Homo sapiens: one gene and its partner. The protein of the gene in region 2 interacts with the protein of the main gene of each other region in a biochemical or structural test. Each region holds a gene or a part of one and is shown on either strand. Other genes may lie near its edges.

Region 1 (3,754 bases), on a different chromosome or scaffold from region 2:
TTTTTTTTAACTTTTGTAGAGACAGGGTCTTGCTATGTTATATTGCCCAGACTGACCTCAAATGATACCCCACCACAGCCTCCCAAAGTGTTGGGATTACAGGCATAAGCCACCATGCCCAGCCTCCATTCCTGAAGTTAACCTCTTTCTTGGTATCAACTTCATAAGCAAGATACATTTATTAAACATATAATTATATAGGGCCCAAAAGAGGAGTCTGTAATTACAGAAAAAAAAAATACCTTGAAGAAAGGTATATATGCAGTAGCATCAAAATATGAAATAAATAATAAGGTTATAAACAGATCAGAGATAAATACAGTAAAGGACTAACTGGCTACGCGCCTACTTCAACTCAGAAAAATACTGTGAGAAAAATTGATAAAGTAACTTTTTTCAAAAAATACCTAACACAAAAAGTACTAGGTACTTAGTACTTAGAAAAAGATGAACAACCCAAATTAAAAACAGGTGCAAGTGAATACGTTAACAGAAAAAAATACATAAATGACCAAAAATATATGAAAAAATACTCAACCTTACTCATGGAAAACTGCAAATCAAAACAATGATTTACTCTTCTTCATCTATATGATGAATATGAGAGGAGGCATTTAGGCCATAATTTTACACATTTGGAAAAACATGATACATGACTTTGTACCTTGCCTTTTATTCACTCAACAAGCCCTATCTCCATCAGTCAAATAGTATTGCACCAATGAATTCTTTTTAATGGCTATATAATATCCATTATACAGATGTTTTAGTTTATTTGGCTATTTCTCTTGATGGGCATTTTTCCTTCCATACTTTTGACAATCATAAACCATGCTATGATAAACATTGTTGTACATATGTCTTTATGTACTTGTGGTTCTCTTTCTTTTTTAGAGACAAGAGTCTCACTCTGTCATGCGCACTCAGGCTGCAATGCAATGACACAATCACGGCTCACAGCCTCGAGCTTCTAGGCTCAAGCAATCCTCCTACCTCAGCTCCAAAAGTGCTGGGATTACAGGTATGAGCCACAATACCCAGCCTTATGATTTTATTTCTATTTGATAAACTCCCAGCAATGATATCACTGGATTGAAGAACATTCATCTTTAAACTCAGTAAGTGTTCTTGATACTTTTTTCTCACATTGCTTTTAATTTTGGGCAAGTATGACAGATATAAAATATCTTACTAATTCAAATTTCCTTGGCCACTAATGAATTTGAGCATTTTTTCCCTATAATTGTTAGACACTGGGTTAGGCTCTTCTTGTCAACTGCCTATTCATATCCTTTGTCCTTTGTTATTAGGTTTATTTTTCCTGTTAATTTCTAAGAGGTCTTTGTATATTATAGACATTTAATCCAGTCATCTGAAAATTGCTATCATAAAAGAAAAACAAAAAAAGTAAAAAAGACAAATAATTGCAAAGCTGATCATTATACATTTTTACACTATATATTAAGTAATTGCGGTTTTCGCAATTAAAAGTAATTGTGAAAGCCACAATTACTTTTGCATCAACCTACTATATTTGCAATGTGCCAGTGCACACTCATTTTCATTTTTCCTGTAATTTACTATAACACTAAGATTTAAACCCAAACCTTAGCATAGGAAAGTTTAGCTACATTGTAATATTTAGTATATATATAAAACCTAAGAAAATATTAATATATCCAATATTTTTATTAATATTTCATAAGAAATCAGTTTTTAATTATGTTGATCAAATGTTACAGAAGCCTCTTTCAATTATCATTAGTGCATTAGAAAACAACATATTTCTTCGTAATTCATTTAAACTTAAAATTTTAAAGACCTGGCATCTTTTACAGTACAGTTTCCCATTTTCTCACTTTTAAACTTTGTTTTCCACTTTTCCCTGTTATATAAACATCAATAATAAGAGTTAAAATTACTTCCAACTATACATCTTCTTAAAAATACTATTCATAGCATACAGTTATCCTTTCACATAATTTTTAAAGTTGACAAGACCCAAAATAAGAAGTTATTAGGAAAAAGCATCTTGACTTATGTTATTTTACATTTATTAAAAAATTCATGTAATGAACAGGCATCCTACATAAAAATTAATGCTAAAAGTACATTGCTTATCATTTGTACCTGTAACCTTATAAGACATTTCTCTGTAGCGGGTCAGGTCTTCTCCATTAACTAATACCAACTGTGGACACTTTTCTTTTGCATCTCTGACATTCATAAGTTTCTTAACTCCAAGTTTCCTAGCTTCATAGTTGCAGGTAACCACCAAATATTTCTGTTGAACCCCTGTAAAAAATATTTTATGAGAAACCCAAGCACAATTGAAGAAAACATTTAAAGATATTATTAATTCCGTATTACATTTGTCTAAATTGTAAGACAATCAGTTTTGATAAGAATCAAAAGCCCTGTCTCAATTAAAAAACATAGCCTCCATATATCAAATCTCTATAATGCAGAAACATTAGGTTTTCAAGCTATCTCCTAATTATGAATTATAATATACCAATGTATTATTTTTCCATACCCCACTTTTAATCTCTAGTTGTTTTGTCTCCTTGAAGAAGGAAAGTTATTATTAAATAACAAAACACTGAATAACACAGAATTAAAAGTTAGACGATAGATCAATTATTCATATACAAAAGGCAATCTATGTATTACATTTCTAAAATTTAAAAATGAACCTAAATCAATATATTCTATGGAATCTTCAGTGATAAGATACAAATCAAATCTCTCTAGGATTTTTTTCCAGACAATATAAAAGCAGATTAATTTATACTGCCATATAATAGGGCATGTTCTACCAAAAAAAAAAAAAACGGATGAAAATAATTGAGTACAACTAAATACTGGTTGCTGCTAGAAAAACTCAACTTCTCTTCTCCGTAACTTGCTAATATAAAGCAATATAAAATATAATATGTATATAAAATATATAAAACAAGTGCTGGGCTACAGCAATTTTTAGGGATCTAACAGTTATGTACTACTTATTGAACTGTTCTATCAAAAATGATTAAATTATGATCATTTATTTACAGACTGCATAAAAAATTCTAGTTTATTGGTGACTCAAGATTGCTAAAAATTATTTGCTCTTTTTTTATACAAGTTGACTACTTGCTTACCACTGTAAGAGTAATGTTCACCTAAAATATGTAAAATACAAACATGTAGAAAAAAAAGGTTATGTCCACTTCTCTATTAGACATTGTTTCTAAAATTTTGATATCATAAACAACATTATTTTTATATAAAGTTTTTTCATATATCAGGTAATGCCCAAAAATATAATCATGGAACCAAAGGTAATAATAATTTGAGATTCCTCAGTGAACTACATAAAAAATCAGATTGCTAGATTTCTTAACTAAAAAAAGGAGTCCTTTAATAGAGCATTACATTATATGGCCTCATCACTGCATGTCACTACTGGTCGGGCACGGTGGCTCACGTCTGTAGTCCCCGCACTTTGGGAGGCCAAGGCAGGTGGATCGCCTGAATTCAAGCATACGAGACCACCCAGGGCAACATGGTGAAACCGTCTCTACTAAAAATACAAAAAAATTAACCGAGTATGGTGGCGCACACCTCTAGTCCCAGCTACTTGGAAGGCTGAGGCAGGAGAATCACCTGAGCCCCAGAGGCAAAGCTTGCAGTAAGCCAAGATCGCACCACTGCACTGCAGCTTGGGCTACAGAGTGAGACCCCTTCTCAACAACAACAACAAAAACAAAAT
Region 2 (3,754 bases):
ATTTTAAACCTTAATCGATCCTTCACAAGTGTGATAAAACTGTATAGATGTGCCATTTCCACTATCTGGAGTTCATTTTGCACATGTTGCTATAGATTGAAAAAGTCAAGTGTAACTTAAGAAGCAATTTTAACAACTTCATGTAAATATAAATTCATAATACAAAACAAGAACTTCAGGCAACCTTATTAGAGCTCTATAGATAAAAGAAATGTTTATGAGACATATAAGAATGCCTAAGAAATCTGAACAAAGAAAGTATCTGAAGGAGATTTTGGCCCAGTTTTTCAAGTATGGAAGTCTTGCCTCTTAGCCATAAATCAATTTTCGTTTATACCAAATGCCTGTAAACTAGTTCTTGTATAGTACACCTAATTATGTCACATCAGGGATTTCCATGTTTCTTTGACTTAGAATACGTAGTAAACAGATAGAACAGATCAATCACCTAAACTAATCAAAACTCTGCAATATCTCCCTACTCTACTGAAATAAGGCTAATACCTTTTAGTATGACTCCCGAAGCACAGCAAACTCGTACAATGAATTTGAACACATCCCTCCAGCAACCTTTACTCTAGTCATGATTTTCTACAATATTCCCCAGATTGTCATGTAGCATCTTTAATCAGGCTGTTCCCTGGATGTTCAGTCTCTACTGAAAGCCATCCTTCTCAGGCCTAGCTCAAAAGCTATCTGCCCCAGGTGAGTTTCTCAAGATAATTAATGAATTCTTCCTCTGACCACAGAATACTGAATTCTTCCTCCCTTTAGTACACATCAATGACTTGTTAGATGGTTATTAATGTGCTTTCCCCAACAGAGGTTTACTCTTTCACAGACATCAGTTTTGATCATCTTTCTGTACTCCTAGTACATAGTTCATCTAAATGCTCAAAAAGCATTGAAATGTACAGAAATATAAGCTCTGGGCCTTGCTACCCCCTCTGGGAAATCACTTAATATTTCAGTATATTGTTGTTTTCTCCTGTTTTAAAAAATAGCTGGTTGATGAGAGTGAATAACACTATGAAATGAAACACCCTCAGCTTGAAAGAAGGTGCATTTGAGGTATTGTTATTATGATGCATGGTATATTTTATACTTGCATTTGTGGACCCACTTCTTAGAGATAGAAAACATTGATATAATTTTTATGTTCTTAAAGTATCATAAGTTGCTGCTAAACGTTATCACAGTGGTAATGAACACACAGTATACAGAAAGTCTCCTGCTTTGATATGCACCTTAAAACAGTGATATTTATACCTGAATATTTTTAACGTTTTTGATCTCTTTAACTAACTTCTTAATGGAATGTGCATGTTTTTTACTTCTCAGAATTGGGAGCTAATTTGAACTCTTCACTAAATTACCCTTTCCTCTGACCATAAGGAAGAGTCACACTGAGTTCCCTTTTGTCTGCTTTTTAAAATGACCAGAATCATTTAAAAATGACTTATAACATTAACCTTGTCCCATCCCATCTGTTACCTGAATCCACGGCCATCTGTCATTTTCTGCAGCTGTCCACGCATTTATAAGCCCCTTCTTATTAAGACGTGCATAGTAGGGATACCATTTTTGGAGTCCAAAAAGAGCTCGGTGAGTAGAGGAAGCTGTGATTTGCTGGTTTGATATAATTCCACCTTCAATTCCCAGTGGGCCTGAGCATTCTGGAAACAAAAACAGGAAAAAATATGAATGTATTAGAAACAATGCATATACAACATGTGTCTGTTCGATTTGATAGGATTTTTTTAAATGATTTGAATTTGCACCACCATGCTATTTACTCTTCATCCCCTTTACAGATCTGTTATCGATCTCTAAATTAAGGAAATAATTCTTGCTTCTCATGACCCTCTCTTCCTTCTTTGCTTTGAAAGTAGTCACTTAATAGACACTTCCCTTCTGCATTATGATTCTGGTTCTGTACTGATAGCTTCTGGTTGTTGATCACGTCAACAAAAGCATAATGCTCTTAAAAGGCTTATCTCATATTTTATATTCCCGGAGATTAGCATGCCTCACAAATTATAAGCTCTCAACAAATATTTTTCCATCCATTATTTCTTTATTATCATAAAGCTGAGCTTTTTTTCAAAGTTATTTTTGTACTAATTTAGCATTTCTCACTACTATAAACTTTATAACTTAAATTTTTATACCCACCATCAGTTATGCTTCCACAACAAAAGGGAAATGGGTAAATCTGTTAACATTTAAAAATATTATTATAATACCCCATGATATATTATAAATTATAAAATATATGTAGACAAATTATTTTTATAAAGAGAGCAGGTAAACTCTCTGACAACATTATACATGACAATGTGTACAACTCAGTAAATCAAGATATTAAAATACTTATTAGCACTTTAGTTTCAAATTCACAATTCTACATATTGGGATTCTGCATGTATATCTTCACATTTGCAACTGAGAAACTTAAGAAAATTTTCCAATGAAATTTTAAAATACTAAGATTAAAACACATTATGCTCAAATGATATGTTCTCAGATACCAAATGTATTTAGTTTTTCAAATTAGAAATGGAGATAAATCCATCCTTAAAAAATTACATATATATTTGTATTATATATAAAATTATATATAAATTCTTAATTGCGTTATAAAATTTCAGCAGAAGGTACATTTCTTTTAAATTCAGTTTTGAAAATTCAGAATAAGTAGGGATATGATATAAGGAAAAGATGTTCTTAATTTCATTAACATTTCATATACTATACTGAATATTTTGCCAATTTAGATTTGTATAATATATACGATAATTGTATTATAAAAATATACTACAATAATTTATCAGAATTTATGAAAATAAGAAAGAAGTTCATTGCTACTACTAAATATCAGTATATGAAAGTCAACTTGATTGGTGATTATGACCAAGTACATTTTAGATTTTAATTACTGTCAAAATCCAACATTTGTCAGTAATTAAATGTTTACACTTAGATTGAGGTTGAAAATAAGAAAAAATATTAGGAGCCAAATTATAATATTTTTGAAACTTAGTAAGATATTTCTCACTGTTAACCATATTTTTAATTGTCATAAACATGGTAAGTAGCTCTGATGGCTTTCAAATTTTTAAATTTTTTTATAAAGAAGATAAAAATATATGGATAAGTAATCATCTTAATCAGACTGTATTAGTAAAGACAACATTAATACAGTAAAAATTGCATCTTTGCCATTGACAAAAAATTACTTGGTATGATAAATTTAGATAATAAGATCTTTTTTTAACATGTAATTAGGACTGCTTAGCACTTTATGAAAGTATACTATATCACTTTAGAATCATTAAATTAAGAAGCCATTCATTAGTAGAATTGAAGTCTTACGAGCTGCAGATGATAATCTGATTTTCACATTCCCAAAAACTTAACGTTAAAAGTTCAGATATTAATTCTTTGGACCCTTATTTTGCTTTCCATTTTAAACTTCAAGATCTTTACAGACTTCATAAACGTACTAAGAAACTTTCATGATGACACTGTGACTTTAGTAATGGCAGGAGCCTAGCTTTTTAATAATATTGTCATCAAAGGGGTCTCAAGCATCTTGTCCTTAGTTTGTACAATGTTTGGATGGAAAAATGAAACAGGCAGGGAGATCTTTTATTGCAGGCCATTTATTGTAGGCCAGTAAGTAGACTAGCAGAGCTAGAGAGCCAGAATTGATTAATGAGCTGTATGGCAGACTTAAAAATAACTCTGTGCC

Evidence for each region.
Region 1: the proteins of EDIL3 (region 2) and POLI form a complex in vitro, tested with the Homo sapiens proteins (one study listed by BioGRID).

Annotation. Positions count from the first base shown.
Region 1 is NC_000018.10:54,272,467-54,276,220, reverse strand, and holds part of POLI (DNA polymerase iota isoform a (long)), read right to left. Parts: intron 2,296-3,754; coding exon 2,131-2,295; intron 1-2,130. UniProt on the Homo sapiens protein: Error-prone DNA polymerase specifically involved in DNA repair. Plays an important role in translesion synthesis, where the normal high-fidelity DNA polymerases cannot proceed and DNA synthesis stalls. Favors Hoogsteen base-pairing in the active site.
Region 2 is NC_000005.10:84,105,155-84,108,908, forward strand, and holds part of EDIL3 (EGF-like repeat and discoidin I-like domain-containing protein 3 isoform 1 precursor), read right to left. Parts: intron 1,677-3,754; coding exon 1,495-1,676; intron 1-1,494. UniProt on the Homo sapiens protein: Promotes adhesion of endothelial cells through interaction with the alpha-v/beta-3 integrin receptor. Inhibits formation of vascular-like structures. May be involved in regulation of vascular morphogenesis of remodeling in embryonic development.